2 separate regions of the Homo sapiens genome follow, and region 2 is linked to region 1. The links come from fine-mapping of genetic effects on gene expression. Tissue or cell type: whole blood. Region 1 holds a variant in brackets; the other region holds the start of a gene. All regions are shown on one strand. Distances are from middle to middle. Region 1 has its middle 94 kb from the start of LRRC70. Region 2 holds the start of LRRC70 (leucine rich repeat containing 70).

The links. PIP is the estimated chance that this variant, and not a neighbour inherited with it, causes the effect. A credible set is the group of variants that fine-mapping cannot tell apart.
Region 2: it holds the start of LRRC70, and the variant in region 1 is the best candidate, but not a certain one, in a credible set for the expression of LRRC70 in whole blood (INTERVAL, PIP 0.51).

What each region holds. Positions count from the first base shown.
Region 1 is chr5:62,668,766-62,677,240 of GRCh38, reverse strand. No RefSeq gene overlaps it. Among named protein-coding and RNA genes, the nearest start is that of LRRC70, 94 kb to the right of the region's middle. The variant T/C (reference allele first, on the strand shown) is at 4,378.
Region 2 is chr5:62,575,339-62,583,813 of GRCh38, reverse strand. It overlaps LRRC70 (leucine rich repeat containing 70), which reads right to left and starts at 4,995. Exons shown (of 2, transcript NM_181506.5): 1 at 4,879-4,995; 2 at 2,368-4,413. The coding sequence starts at 4,375. The coding sequence ends at 2,507. All of the region lies in intron 27 of IPO11 (importin 11), which reads right to left. It overlaps IPO11-LRRC70 (IPO11-LRRC70 readthrough), which reads right to left and starts at 5,079. Exons shown (of 4, transcript NR_073584.1): 1 at 4,879-5,079. It also overlaps the pseudogene RPL35AP14.

The DNA of each region.
Region 1 (8,475 bases):
GAAAAAATGTTAAGGGTAGCCAGAGAGAAAGGTTGGGTTACCCATAAAGGGAAGCCCATTAGACTAACAGCTGATCTCTCTGCAGAAACTCTACAAGCCAGAAGACAGTGGGGGCCAATATTCAACATTCTTAAAGAAAAGAATTTTCAATACAGAATTTCATACCCAGCCAAACTAAGCTTCATAAGTGAAGGAGAAATAAAATACTTTACAGACAAGCAAATGCTGAGAGATTTTGTCACCACCAGGCCTGCCCTAAAAAAGCTCTGAAAGGAAGCACTAAACATGGAAAAAAACAACCAGCACCAGCCACTGCAAAAACATGCCAAATTGTAAAGACCATCAAGGCTAGGAAGAAACTGCATCAACTAATGAGCAAAATAACCAGCTAACATCATCATGACAGGTTCAAATTCACACATAACAATATTAACCTTAAATGTAAATGGGCTAAATGCTCCAATTAAAAGGCACAGACTGGCAAATTGGATAAAGAGTCAAGACCCATCAGTGTGCTGTATTCAGGAAACCCATCTCATGTGCAGACACACATAGACTCAAAATAAAGGGATGGAGGAAGATCTACCAAGCAAATGGAAAACAAAAAAAGTAAGGGTTGCAATCCTAGTCTCTGAAAAAACAGACTTTAAACCAACAAAGATCAAAAGAGACAAAGAAGGCCATTATGTAATGGTAAAGGGATCAATTCAACAAGAAGAACTAACTATTCTAAATATACATGTACCCAATACAGGAGCACCCAGATTCATAAAGCAAGTCCCTAGTGACCTACAAAGAGACTTAGACTCCCACACAATAATAATGGGAGACTTTAACACCCTACTGTCAACATGAGACACATCAACGAGACAGAAAGTTAACAAGAATATACAGGAATTGAACTCAGCTCTGCACCAAGTGGACCTAATAGACATCTACAGAACTCTCCACCCCAAATCAACAGAATATAAATTCTTTTCAGCACCACACCACACCTATTCAAAAGTTGACCACATAATTGGAAGTAAAGCACTCCTTAGCAAATGTAAAATAACAGAAATTATAACAAACTGTCTCTCAGACCACAGTGCAATCAAACTAGAACTCGGGATTAAGAAACTCACTGGAAACCACTCAACCACGTGGAAACTGAACAACCTGCACCTGAATGACTACTGGGTACATAACGAAATGAAGGAGGAAATAAAAACGTTCTTTGAAGCCAACAAGAACAAAGACACAACATACCAGAATCTCTGGGACACATTCAAAGCAGTGTGTAGATGGAAATTTATAGCACTAAATGCCCACAAGAGAAAGCAGGAAAGATCTAAAGTGGACATCCTAACATCACAATTAAAAGAACTAGAGAAGCAAGAGCTAACACATTCAGAAGCTAGCAGAAGGCAAGAAATAACTAAGATCAGAGCAGAACTGAAGGAAATACAGACACAAAAAACCCTTCAAAAAATCAATGAATCCAGGAGCTGGTTTTTTGAAATGATCAACAAAATTGATAGACTGCTAGCAAGACTAATAAAGAAGAAAAGAGAGAAGAATCAAATAGACGCAATAAAAAATGACAAAGGGGATTTCACCACCGATCCCACAGAAATACAAACTACCATCAGAATACTACAAACACCTCTACGCAAATAAACTAGAAAATCTAGAAGAAATGGATAAATTCCTCGACACACACACTCTCCCAAGACTAAACCAGGAAGAAGTTGAATCTCTGAATAGACCAATAACAGGCTCTGAAATTGAGGCAATAATTAATAGCTTACCAACCAAAAAAAGTCCAGGACCAGATGGATTCACAGCCAAATTCTACCAGAGGTACAGGGAGGAGCTGGTACCATTCCTTCTGAAACTATTCCAATCAATAGTAAAAGAGGGAATCCTCCCTAACTCATTTTATGAGGCCAGCATCATCCTGATACCAAAGCCAGGCAGAGACACAACCAAAAAAGAGAATTTTAGACCAATATCCTTGATGAACATTGATGCAAAAATCCTCAATAAAATACTGGCAAACTGAATCCAGCAACACATCAAAAACCTTATCCACCATGATCAAGTGGGCTTCATCCCTGGGATGCAAGGCTGGTTCAACGTATGAAAATCAATAAACGTAATCCAGCATATAAACAGAACCAAAGACAAAAACCACATCATTATCTCAATAGATGCAGAAAAGGCCTTTGACAAAATTCAACAACCCTTCATGCTAAAAACTCTCAATAAATTAGGTATTGATGGGACGTATCTCAAAATAATAAGAACTATCTATGACAAACCCACAGCATATAATCATACTGAATGGGCAAAAACTGGAAGCATTCCCTTTGAAAACTGCCACAAGACAGCGATGCCCTCTCTCACCACTCCTATTCAACATAGTGTTGGAAGTTCTGGCCAGGGCAATCAGGCAGGAGAAGGAAATAAAGGGTATTCAATTAGGAAAAGAGGAAGTCAAATTGTCCCTGTTTGCAGATGACATGATTGTATATTTAGAAAACACCATCATCTCAGCCCAAAATCTCCTTAAGCTGATAAGCAACTTCAGCAAAGTCTCAGGATACAAAATCAACGTGCAAAAATCACAAGCATTCTTATACAACAATAACTGACAAACAGAGAGACAAATCATGAGTGAACTCCCATTCACAATTGCTTCAAAGAGAATAAAATACCTAGGAATCCAACTTACAAGGGATGTGAAGGACCTCTTCAAGGAGAACTACAAACCACTGCTCAAGGAAATAAAAGAGGATACAAACAAATGGAAGAACATTCCATACTCATGGGTAGGAAGAATCAATATCGTGAAAATGGCCATACTGCCCAAGGTAATTTATAGATTCAATGCCATCCCCATCAAGCTACCAATGACTTTCTTCACAGAATTGGAAAAAACTACTTTAAAGTTCCTATGGAACCGAAAAACAGCCCTCATCGCCAAGTCAATCCTAAGCCAAAAGAACAAAGCTGGAGGCATCACGCTACCTCACTTCAAACTATACTACAAGGCTACAGTAACCAAAACAGCATGGTACTGGTACCAAAACAGAGCTATAAACCAGTGGAACTGAACAGAGCCCTCAGAAATAATGCCGCATATCTACAACTATCTGATCTTTGACAAACCTGACAAAAACAAGCAATGGGGAAAGGATTCCCTATTTAATAAATGGTGCTGGGAGAACTGGCTAGCCATATGTAGAAAGCTGAAACTGGATCCCTTCCTTACACCTTATACAAAAATTAATTCAAGATGGATTAAAGACTTAAATGTTAGACCTAAAACCATAAAAACCCTAGAAGAAAACCTAGGCAATACCATTCAGGACATAGGCATGAGCAAGGACTTCATGTCTAAAACACCAAAAGCAATGGCAACAAAAGCCAAAATTGACAAATGGGATCTAATTAAACTAAAGAGCTTCTGCACAGCAAAAGAAACCACCATCAGAGTGAACAGGCAACCTACAGAATGGGAGAAAATTTTCGCAACCTACTCATCTGACAAAGGGCTAATATCGAGAATCTACAATGAACTCAAACAAATTTACAAGAAAAAAACAAACAACCCCATCAAAAAGTGGGTGAAGGATATGAACAGACACTTCTCAAAAGAAGACATTTATGCAGCCAAAAAACACATGAAAAAATGCTCATCATCACTGGCCATCAGAGAAATGCAAATCAAAACCACAATGAGATACCATCTCACACTAGTTAGAATGACGATCATTAAAAAGTCAGGAAACAACAGGTGCTGGAGAGGATGTGGAGAAATAGGAACACTTTTACACTGTTGGTGGGACTGTAAACTAGTTCAACCATTGCGGAAGTCAGTGTGGCGATTCCTCAGGGATCTCGAACTAGAAATACCATTTGACCCAGCCATCCCATTACTGGGTATATACCCAAAGGATTATAAATCATGCTGCTATAAAGACACATGCACACAGATGTTTATTGTGGCACTATTCACAATAGCAAAGACTTGGAACCAACCCAAATGTCCAACAATGACAGACTGGATTAAGAAAATGTGGCACATATACACCATGGAATACTATGCAGCCATAAAAAAGGATGAGTTCATGTCCTTTGTAGGGACATGGATGAAGCTGGAAACCATCATTCTCAGCAAACTGTCACAAGGACAAAAAACCAGACACCACATGTTCTCACTCATAGGTGGGAATTGAACAATGAGAACACATGGACACAGGAAGGGGAACATCACACACCAGGGCCTGTTGTGGGGTTGGGGGAGCGGGGAGGGATAGCATTAGGAGATATACCTAATGTCAAATGACGAGTTAATGGGTGCAGCACACCAACATGGCACATGTATACACA[T/C]GTAACAAACCTGCACATTGTGCACATGTACCCTAAAACTTAAAGTATAATAAAAAAAAAAGAATCAGAATTTAATCATTCTTTAGTTCATGTAGTGCTTAAAAGAGAGTCCAAGGAACACAGAATTACTATAGTGTCAGGTTATATCCCCAAAGAGGAACTAGTTTTGACAAAAAGAAAAAAAAAGTTATTTGACAACATCCACATATTCCAAGCCCCAGGAAAATAATGACTTGAAAAATTACTCTCTCTATGCCCAAAGTCACTCCTGACTCCAGAGCCTTTTGGGCAAGCGATCAGGTCCTATGGTAGGCAGAAGGGGCATATTATATCTGTTTTAATTATATTCTGAATAAATCTCACTACTCAGGACCACTGGGCATAGATTCAATTTACAGACCATCTACGATTTTCCTAAATGGCAGAATAGGAAGGGGGACTGGTTTCAGATGAATAGACTGAGAGTAACGAAAACTCAAGATGCATCACAGACGCTCTGACTAGGAGCCTGACCTCACTCTAAGCCCATCCCATGAAAGGTGCACAACTCTCTCAACCAGAGCTCCTTGATTGTTATGGGAAACCCAACTGACCAATGGCTTGTGTGGTCAAACCCTAAACATGAAAGTTCTAGGCATGGTGTTCTGAGGACAGCTAGGTAAGAACCAGTCTGGCCTCAGTAATCTAAGAGTTCATTTGGGTGTGAGTGGGATCCACTCCCTGGATGCCCTTTTGTCTCTTTAGGGGTGGGGAGGATATACAACAACTTCATTACCGTGATTATTAAAACTTGGAAAAGTGGAAGATAAATATGTCTGTCTATGTCTTGTCATAACAATTTAGCAATTACAATATGTATTCTGAAATTAAACATGCATTTAGAAACATTTAGAAGTCTTCAGGGGGTTGAGCTTCTCCCTCCAACACTGCATCACTTGGGATGACATCTCTCTAATTCTATAATATTCAGCCAGCCTGGTAAATGTGGTAAATATTGTGAAAGGATCAACTGTTAGTCCAACTTGGACTAACAGAGCTCTGCAATTACAGAAAGAGAAATAGTTGAAGAGGCTTGGGTTGGCACAGAAGAGAATTAAGCAAAGACAATAATAACTAAAGAGATAATAACTAAAAAGAAAAGAGCACATAATCCAATTCTCACACATTCAGCAAGTACATTCTTTTCTGATGAGGCATCACAATTGGCTCCAGGGCCCTGGTCACCTAACATCATAGACTGATCACCTAGTCACTTGCATTCTCCTTACATTACAAGAAATGCCCAATGTTCCTTCTCCCAGGAACATTAACTGAAATCTCTAACAACTGGTCCAGCACAGAGAGTGGTCAGTAAAGCACAAAGATCGATAAGGTACAGGCATGGACCAGTCCAATCAGCTGCCTTCTCTCACATACCTGGGGACTACACTGGCACCCCTTGTACTGCCTCACACAGTTCAAGCACACTCACTTTTTAAAAGATATGTTTCACTTCACTAAAAAAGGAAATATCAAAAAGAAATAAAATAGGAAACAGCAAAACCATCTTGCAATTTGAGAGGGAAATAATGTCTGGTAAGTTTTCAAACGTTCTGCATGCCCCTCTGGCATATTCAGCTTTGGGGGGACCCGGCTTGGTGACTGAGGCAGTAGGGATCTGGAGAGCACGGAGGATCCTGGTAAGCTGGGGGACAGTGTCAGATCCAATGTCCAAATTCTTTCAGGGCCTCCCAGTCCAGTCTCAATGCCACTTCTGGAAGAAAGCTCCCAAAGCACCCCATCTGTAGCCTTCTTACGGCATTGTTCACATTCTGCTGTTTATTCATGTCTTCTCCTATCAGACTTCGAACTCCAGAAAGGCAGGGCCCACATGGTTAATCCTTGCATCCCTCACAAGGCTGAGGATTGCACCGTACACCTTAAGGAATAAGCGAGCACAGGTGATAGGGCAAGTCGAACCAGGAGAGAAGGAATGAAGGGGAAGCTCAGTCATTAGGGATGTTGGGGGTGGAGGGAGGGAAAGAGTGGGGAGAGTCAAGTTCTGGAGTCAGGAATAGATGTGGACAGACTTGGCTATGTTCAGAGTACTAGTGGATAGGGTTATGACCCTGTCCCTGGAGGAGATGTTCCTGGTTTTCCCTTTGGTGTAATCTGATGACATCTCACCCACATTTTCCCTCCTCATCACCCCTTTTATATCCCTCTTTTCCACTTCCCTTTTCCGCTGTAGGGTACCATGATTATTATCTTATAGGATATACAATTAAATCAATCAGTTAATATGGAATACCTATTATGCAAAGCACTATTATGTAAATTAAAGCTATAGTACTTATAGGTTTTACTAATTTAGTGTAAAATGAAAAAGGGAAATTTTCCAATTTGGGAAATTATAATTCCACATAACACTCAGAAATGATCTGTCATTACTTTAACAACACTTTCTTGGTACAAGCACACTTGTTTGCGAGTGAAAGCTGTTAGATGCTCAGTGTTAGTAAGAGTGGGGTAAAAATGATATACACTGCTGGTGGCATTGTTGATGAAAAATATTCAGGCAATATATCTTTTTGGCTATGAAAATATTCTTACCTCTGACCACATAATTCCAGTTCTGAGTCTATGTAAAAAAGCATATATTATAGCATCACATTCAACAACCCAAAACAGAGACAATTCAAATGTTAGCAATAAGAAAATAACTTAATAGTTTTATGGCTAGTTTGATTATAATGAATTATGCATTCATTAAAAATTGGTGTTTATGGGATATTTGTGGACATATAAAATGTTTATAAATATCATCAGATGAGAAAAGCAGACTTCAAAGTTTTGTGAGTACCGTGAAAACAACTACGTATGCTTTTTTCTTGTAAATTTGTTTGAGTTCATTGTAGATTCTGGATATTGAGAGGATGTGGAGAAATAGGAACACTTTTACACTGTTGGTGGGACTGTAAACTAGTTCAACCATTGTGGAAGTCAGTGTGGCGATTCCTCAGGGATCTCGAACTAGAAATACCATTTGACCCAGCCATCCCATTACTGGGTATATACCCAAATGACTATAAATCATGCTGCTATAAAGACACATGCACACGTATGTTTATTGCGGCATTATTCACAATAGCAAAGACTTGGAACCAACCCAAATGTCCAACAATGATAGACTGGATTAAGAAAATGTGGCACATATACACCATGGAATACTACGCAGCCATAAAAAATGATGAGTTCATGTCCTTTGTAGGGACATGGATGAAATTGGAAATCATCATTCTCAGTAAACTATCGCAAGAACAAAAAAACAAACACCGCATATTCTCACTCATAGGTGGGAATTGAACAATGAGATCACATGGACACAGGAAGGGGAATATCACACTCTGGGGACTGCGGTGGGGTGGGGGGTGGTGGGGAGGGATAGCATTGGGAGATATACCTAATGCTAGATGACGAGTTAGTGGGTGCAGCGCACCAGCATGGCACATGTATACATATGTAACTAACCTGCACAATGTGCACATGTACCCTAAAACTTAAAGTATAATAAAAAAAAAAAAGAAAACAACTATGTAAAAATCTATGTGCATATGGACAAGAACAAAAAGATAACTCTCAGAAAATTAGACGTGTTAAAGTAGTGGATTTTTAAAACTTAATATTATTAAATATAGGAGCACCATTTGGCAACATTCCACAGGAATAGAAGAAAAGAAGTGAGAATGTAAATAAAAGACTGAAGGAGGGAAAGACTTTAGCCTAGGACAAAGTTCACCAGCAATATAGTTCACATTCTCAGAGCTACAATTTATGTTTGACATGGAGTATTTTTTTTTTAATTATACTTTAAGTTTTAGGGTACATGTGCACAATGTGCAGGTTTGTTACATATGCATACATGTGCCATGTTGGTGTGCTGCACCCATTAACTCATCATTTAACATTAGGTATATCTCCTAATGCTATCCCTGACTGGATTAAGAAACTGTGGCACATATACACCGTGGAATACTACGCAGTCATAAAAAAGGATGAGTTCATGTCCTTTGTAGGGACATGGATGAAGCTGGAAACCATTCTCAGCAAACTATCGCA
Region 2 (8,475 bases), 93 kb after region 1:
TTTAACTTAGGGCTGCTCAAAATGTGAAACAATGAAATACAGAAATTGTACCCAAGAAAATTATTATGCCTGTAACACTTCAATTATACCTTAAATAAGTTTTTTAACTGTACAACTACCAAACAACGGTGAAATATGAGCTGGCTAACATTTTTCAAGGGGGTAGCTACTTACTCCAGCTCTCTTTTGATTAGTAAAAAAAGAAAAATTTTTTAAAAGGAAATAGCTGACAAAGACTGAAATGAACATTTAATGAATACCACTGTATAGAACTATGGCTCCATATATAAATTGATATTAATATAATTGGTTTTCTAGTTGAGTCTAAATCAATTAGAAGCTATACTTTCAAAAAGCAAAAATTTTGATAGATTTTCTGAACTGCCTTTTTTGAATTTAGGAATTTTAAGATAAAAATACTTTGTTATATAAATTTTCCTGAACTTCACATAGCCAGCTGTGTTGCTTGTGAACATCTTTAAGAGGGTACGGTTTAGGTGGTAAGGAAGGGAGGCATGGAGAAGTTTTCAGCCTACCTTATGTATTTCTGCACTGTTTAAATTTTTTCCCAATGAACAAGTACTTTTAGTAATTAAAGAAAAAACATAATTGGATTTGTAGGAGTTGGGAGGATACAACAAAGAAAAAAATACATTATTAAAAATGTCTCTCAAGGTGAACAAAAAGATTGCTCTTCCATAACAAAACAAATTACTTAGGAAAAATAATGTTTATTTAAATATATTCACATTTTCTGCTGAAATTATAATCCCCAAAAAGGCATTCAGCTAAGCAGGGAAAAGCAAACCATTGTTTGAAAACCCTTTGGGGTTGGTGGGGCTTTATTTATGCAATTTCTAATATATCTTAAAATTACTTTTCAGCTCCTTTCTGATTTTCTCTCAAATATATTAAGAAAAAATTTTAAATACATATTTGTGGTTCAGGTCACTATTAACTAACCAACAAGCATAGGCACTTACTATAATCCCTAATATTCTGCAGTACAAATATTCTGCAAGTACAAATTTTTGCTAATAAAGAAAACCATTATATTACTTCTATGACTTCAATTACCATCTATATTAAAGATTCTTAATCAAGGGCACTAATATCTCCTAGGGACTCTCTCAACTTCTACAAGGTCTTATTCTTCCCCACTTACCTATCTCCCAAAACCACAGCTTAAATGGTTATTGTTACTGTAAAGGGTGCATCATACATTTCCAGTGTACTGGACAGATGAAAGTTTAAGAAATATTGGCCTTTACCATAAGACCTCGCTTCTGAATTTCTGCATGATATATATTTCCATGTGGAGATCTAATAAGAACCTCAGATTCAATCTGTCTAAAACTGACTCATTATTTTGCCCCACCCCTTTTCTTTCCCTAGCTTAGTGAATACAGCACAAAACTGCCTAAGCCAAAAACCTAACATCTTTGACTTCTCCCTCCCCTGCCACGCCTCAACCAATCACCAAGGCAGTTCATTTTACTTTCAAAGTACCTCTGGATCCATCCATCCTTTTTGCCAGTATCCTGGCCCAGGCCTCTAGCATCTTTCCCCTGGATTAGCAATTCAGATTCCTACTCACCTAATTCTGGCTCCGGTTTTATTGTTCCTTCCAGAAAGAGGGAAATTTCTAAAGGGTAAATCTAATCATTTCACTCTACTGCTTAAAAATCCTTCAATGGCTCTCTGTTGCCCTCAAGATAAAGCATGTAACTATAAAGCTTTCATCACCTGATCTCTCTTTCGGGCTTTAAATCGCACACCATCATTCACGACACCAGCTGTACTGAATTTTAGTTCCTGAAAAGCAGCAGGTTTTCTTCTGTTAACCCCTCTGACACGATGTTACTCAGCTCTCTTCACTGGGCTAATTTCTATTTATTCTTCGTGATCCAGTTTTGATGTCACTTTCTTCATAAAGCCATCTCTCACCTCCACAAATGTTATACTCAACAGCATCTCCAAGTACAGTACTTATCATCGCACTGTGCAGTAACCATATATCTCCTCCTCTAAATTTCAAGCTCTACCTAGAATAAGAACCACGTCTATTTTTTTCATATCACAATCCTAGAACCAAAGCAGCAATATAGTATAAAACTGAAAGCATGAACTCTAGTCAGAGAGGCCCAAAAAGTGTTACAAGCTGTGAGAATTTGGCATAGTTACTTAAACTTTAAGTTTCCTCACCTGTAAAGTATAAATAGTGCCACCTTTCAAGACTATTCACAGATTAAATGTGAAATGTGAAATATTTGGCACAGTGCTTGATACACAGAAATGTTAGCTATTATTACTTAATACAGTATATATCAAAGAAAATATTTGCTAAATGAATACACTGTTCACAAATTATTAAAAACATATTTTAATAATGCTAACCTCATATAATTCATTATATTTCCAACTAAAGTATATAATTATATAAGGAGGTTTCAGTTTAAATCATGTCCATGGCACTGAAGTTTCTTATAGACAATATTTAGTTGAGTTATAAAGCAGAATGTTCAAAAAGAATGACCTGTGCCTCATTTTCAGGAACAATTTGTTTATGAAGTCGAATCTGCTCCAAGCCAGGACTTTCTAGAGAATTTGGGGAAGTGTTACAAATTGAGGCAGTTACATTATACCTTGCTGACTGATAAAAGCTGTAGTATTCAAGTCTATTTTCCCTTGAGTTTTCTGATGCCTTTAGTTTTTGTTTAAACTGAACAACTTTGTAGATCAAAAAAATGATTAAAACACAAGCTAAGATGAAAAAAGCTAGCAAAATGTCAAAAGCCTCATTCAACTTCTCAACTTCTTGTGTACAAATTAGAGATGTTTTCCCTGACATTGAAGCAGCATCATTCGGTAGAGCACTGTTTTTTTCCAAGTTCAAGGTAACAGAAGTAGTAAGTTGTATTTGCACAGGTAACACTGCTGTAGTCTCTAATGGATTACCAAAGGCATTCTCTTGAAAAAATCTACCAGCAGGTGAAGTAGGAATTCGTTCCCAGAAAGTAATGTTCTCAGTCTCAGTATTTTCCAGAGGACTGCCATTTGTGGTTACTTTATGCCAGGCCATCATTAGCGCAGTAGTCTTGTGATGAATATGAGGAGATTTTACAACAGCCCAAGCTCTGGATACATTTATTGAAGATGTAACACAATTTGTAATGTTAATATAACGTAATGCTCTGCCACGCATGGATGGGGGATTCTGACAATAGATGTTTAGAGTAATGGCTGAAGATGCTAGCCAGTCTCGAAGGCCCAAAAGTTTGCAGTTACATTCCCAAGGATTAGAATTTGCCTGAAGATGAATCAATGAAGACAACGGCTTAAGGACCCTTGGATGCAAGGCTGTAAGATTATTAAATGACAGATTAAGGATCTTCAAAGATGCTCCCATATTTTCAAATGTATCATTATCAATGCTAATTATTCTGTTTCTATCTAACTTAAGGTAAATTAAATTCTTTAACAAACTGAATGTGTCAGAATTTAAATTCTCTAAATCATTATGACTTAAGATCAAATGTTTAAGATTATTAATTCCACTAAACCCATCCCTAGTAACATTCCTAATTCTTGAATTTTTCAGGAGGAGGTATTCCAGATTGGCAAGTCCTTTAAATGCAAAGGGCTGTATTGCTTCAATAGGATTATGAGACAAAGAAAGTCTTCTAAGACTTTTAAGTACTTCAAAGGCATTTGATGGTACTTTTGTTAAATTATTACTTCCTAAATACAAACAAGCAAGGTTTTCAAGATGTTGAAAGCCTGATTCTGATATCCTCAAAATGTTATTGTTTGATAAATCAAGTATCCGAAGAGCAACCATACCAACAAAGGTACCACTCCCAAGGACAGTGAGGCGATTCCTTTGTAGATTTAAGTACTGAACTGAAACTAGATCATTAAATACTCCTCTCGGAACAAAAGATACCTGATTATACTGTAAATATAAATTACGAAGATTTAAAAGTCCCTTAAATATTCCAGGATCTAAGCGTTTGATGAAATTATTATTTAGAAATAGAAAATATAGATGCCTCAATTGAACAAAGGCTTTTGGATATACATACAGAATGTTAGAATTATCCAAATACAATGCTACAAGAGAATGAAGTCCTGTTAATTCACTTTCATTTATATAAGATATATTATTCCCAGTCAGATACAGAAAAACTGTACTTTCAGGAAAATTCTTAGGAATACTCGAAAGGCCTAAGTTACGGCAGTTAATTTGTCTCCCAGTGCAGAGCTGACAAACAGACGAACATCCAAGTATTTCTTTGTGGAGTAATAATAAAAGATAACAGGTAACAACCAGAAACAGTCGTAGGCAAGGCAGAGAAAACTGTAATCCACACATATCCCTGTTCTTGGATTTTCTGTTCAGATCAGAATTGGCTATAAAAAGAGAAGGTAAAGCTTTAAATCACGAAAACTTCATCAAATGAATTTTTTTTATAATACTATAACTTCTGTATTCTATTTTAATTAGGATCAGCCAATAATACTATCATAAATCATACCATGGTAATAGCAAAAAATAATGAGTATGGAATACGTTCTAGAATTATTAACATGATCAGGCCATTAACCCACTATTTGACAAAATAGTTCAGATTAATGAAACATTTGCTAAGTTAACTTAAAAATTACAATTGATTACAACACAGGTGACAAATGATGTAGGAATGAGAATCTTTGAATTTAATATGTCCCTTTAACAACATAAAGTCTAATATCAAATAACATTATAATTTATGAAAATACAAATTCACTACAGAACAATTAAATTCTAAATTACAGTTTTTCACAGAACTATTTTTCATGTCAGCTAGAAGTTCATATTTAAGTAAATAATCTTACCAAGAAAAGGAAATTCGTATTATTAACACTCAGCTGATTCAGTAAAGGTTTTCTTTTTAAATCTGAAGAACGACATTTCTTAACTCCAGTTTGTTCTGTGGCACTGCTGACCTCCACCCCACCACTTTTTTTTTTTTTTTTTTAAGTCACCGTTTGCTCAGGAAACACCACTCTTCACATTGGTTCCTTTACAGTCAATGTGTAAAACAGAGGTTGCCATGGATACAGGAAGCTAAGAGACAGGAAGTAATTTTATCTGTGTTTCAAAAGTATTGCTGAACGGAAATCTCAGGAACTTATTTTTTCAGAATGCAGTTAGAGTTTTCCTAATATACACATTGAAATATCTCCTATAATATAAAAATAATAGTTTTTAAAGGATACTTGAAAACATTAGTTATTCAGAACCCAAATATCAATCAACAGACTCTAGCTATCAAACAACATAGCTACTGAATGGAAAAGGCTAGTTCAAATAAGATGTATATCGAGTAATACAATTTTTTGTAAACTTTTTAATGAATAAAATATTTATGTTGTGTTAAATACGCATTGAAGACTTAAACTTTATGCTTTATTCCTTTAATAAAAATAGGGGAAAAAATTTAGAATGAACATAAATGTTGTTATATTATCCTCCAGTGCTCTTTTTAAAATTTTCAAAATATTTTTGGTTGCAAAAAATACTGAGTACTACTTAATACGTGAGGTACTAATTGGTAGTAAGCTACTAATTAGTAGTAACGCACTAATTGGTTGTGTTGGGTTATAAGATGTTAAGAAGCTGCATACCAACTTACTGACATAGGTTATCTTTGCAAGAAAAATTGGGGAGAGTAAAAGAGGCGATGTTTCGCCCTATATATATCTGTATCAGTTTGAATCTTTTAGAACAAAAATGGAGAATTTTTTAACGTCATTTTTCAAGAATTTAAAGAATCGGATATAAATTGTTTATATTATATATTGTTCAGTCATTAACTTTCTTTCATTAACTTTAAGCTAGTTGCTTAAGCTTTCTAATTCTGACTTTTATTAATATTACTAATAGCCTGATAATATTCCTAAAATATCAAGTTATATAATTGTATACAACTCTCCTTTGATATTAAAGCAGTTTCATTTCACATCAACAATTACTTTAGAAATAATATGAATTATGTCCATATTAGAAAGCTGAAATAATACCTAGCATTATCTTTCTATGACTAAAAATTCAGCAATGCATACTGGATAGCAGATCGTTATCAAAATGACTTATGATTCTTACACCTATCCATTATGGCTGGTTACTGTTATTGCTATTTTATGCATTAAAAATGGAAAACAAAACAAGTGACAGAAATGATATGAATTTGAGGTAGGGGCTATGTTTCTCAGGTCCATTTTGTTTAGTACTTCCAATAATATACAAGGTGATATGAAGCTTGTCCCATGGATTTTTCAATTTCTTGGGAAAAATTCAGAGAAAGGGTCCTTTGAAATAAAAATAAAATTAAAGAGAAAAAACCCACAAAGTAATATAACCAGAGTATGAATTAATTTTGTTCTTTATGCCAAAAATATCCAAAGCAGTAAAGAACACTTATTAGGATGCAAAGGTAAAATTTTTAGGAAACTGTATTAAGGAAAAATGACAAAATAAAATCTCACTTCTCACATTCTAAAAACTGAAGGAAACTAAACTGACTTCAACAAAACAAGCAAATATAAATAGTACACTGTAACTCTCAGGTTGAATGGTTTAAAAAAAAATTCCTATCTCCAGCAAAACAAAGTTTAGTCTTTCTGTTCATTTAGGAGTTGCTGTTCTTAGAGACAACTGATCAACAATGATTCCTCATTATCCTTTTCTGATTACTAATGTTCATTACAACTATTACTGAACACTACGCTCAACCTCTTAAATTAGTCTTCTATTTCTTTCCAGGAAATTGACTCATTGAGCTGTTTTCCTCTCATTCTTGTTGCTGAACCTTCTTTTACACTGCCTTTGTCTTCAAATCATCTCATGCTTCTGGTATTAATACACAACTATTCTCTTTTCCATTCAGATTCTCCCCATACAAAAACAAGAATGTATAAATAACAGAGCAATTGTTCCATTAGCTCTTTTAAATATACATCATCTGTATGGATGCATGTATTCTTTTGAGACACAGTCTTGCTCTGTCGGCTGGGTTGGAGTGCAACAATGTGAGTACAGCTCACCACAGCATCGACCTCCCAGTCTCAAGTGATCCTCTTCCCTCAGCCTCTTGAGTAGCTAGGACTGCAGGTGCATGCCACCATGCTTTTTCTTATTTTTGTAAAGACGGAGTCTTGCCATTCTGCTCAGGCTGGTCTTGAACTAGTAGGTTCAAGTAATCCTCCCACCTTGGCCTCCCAAAGTGCTGGGATTACAGGTGTGAGCCACTGCGTCCAGCCTATATGTATTTAGATATATACCATCTATATATAAACCAATCAAGATTGGTTTACATATAAAGAATGGCTTATAATAACAGCAGTTACTGATTTTATGGACCTTAAAAGTCACTGATGGAACTAAAATCAAGAGAATGAAAATGTGAAATGGGATTTGCAATTAAAAATAATCCAGCTCTTCCTGCCATCATGAAGCCTGTCGAGGCCTGCTTGGAACATGACTTCTAAAAGGCAAGTATTTCTGGAAGGCTGTCATCCAAGGCCATTTTTGCGCTATAAGCAGGGTCTCTGGAACCAAAGGGAGCACACAAATCTTCTTAAAACTGAAGGTGTTTATGCCCAAGATGAAACTGAATTCTATTTGGGCAATAAATGTGCTTACGCACACAAAGCAAAGAACAACAAGTGACTCCTGGCAGCAAACCAAACAAAATCAGAGTATTCTAGAGAAAGGTAACTTGGGCCCAAGGAAACATTGGCATGGTTTTTGCCAAATTCCAAAGCGATCCTTCTGCTAAGGCCATTGGACATAGATGCTGTAACCCCTTAAAGATTTAAACTAATGAAAGGTAAATAAAGTGGACTTGTGTTCCTGGAAAAAAAAATTTAGCAAACAATTTGAGAATTCTTTTGCTCAATGTAGGAGATAAATTTTAATGAGGGGCAGTATATCTCAATATAGACCTCTTATCAGTTGCAAGAAAAAAAAATAACAACATAGTAACTATACACAGTGGGGAAATCAGATAACACCTTGACCAGCATTAACATCATCAGTGAGAAACAGATGAGCACCATGTGACTTTGCCTGTGATATTCCAAGAGGGACACATCACTTATGCAATATTCTAACGAGAGATGCATACATAAATCTAACCATAAGGAAATATCAAACCACAAATGAGGAACACTCTATTCTGCTGGGGGAGGTGGGGAGAGGATGGATGGGAGACAAAAACAGAGAGGCAATTGGAAAGATGGAGAGAGATTATAAGGAGTGGATTATTTAAAAATGTTATAAGAGAAAAAGAAAAGACTGAGGAAATGACATGACAGAGTAAAAGAGACTACAAAAACACAAGAACTAAAACAATAATTGGTCCTAGACTGTAAGTACTGAGGAGTAAGAGACCATGGCAAATACAACTTACACAGAAATGGTTCAGAATA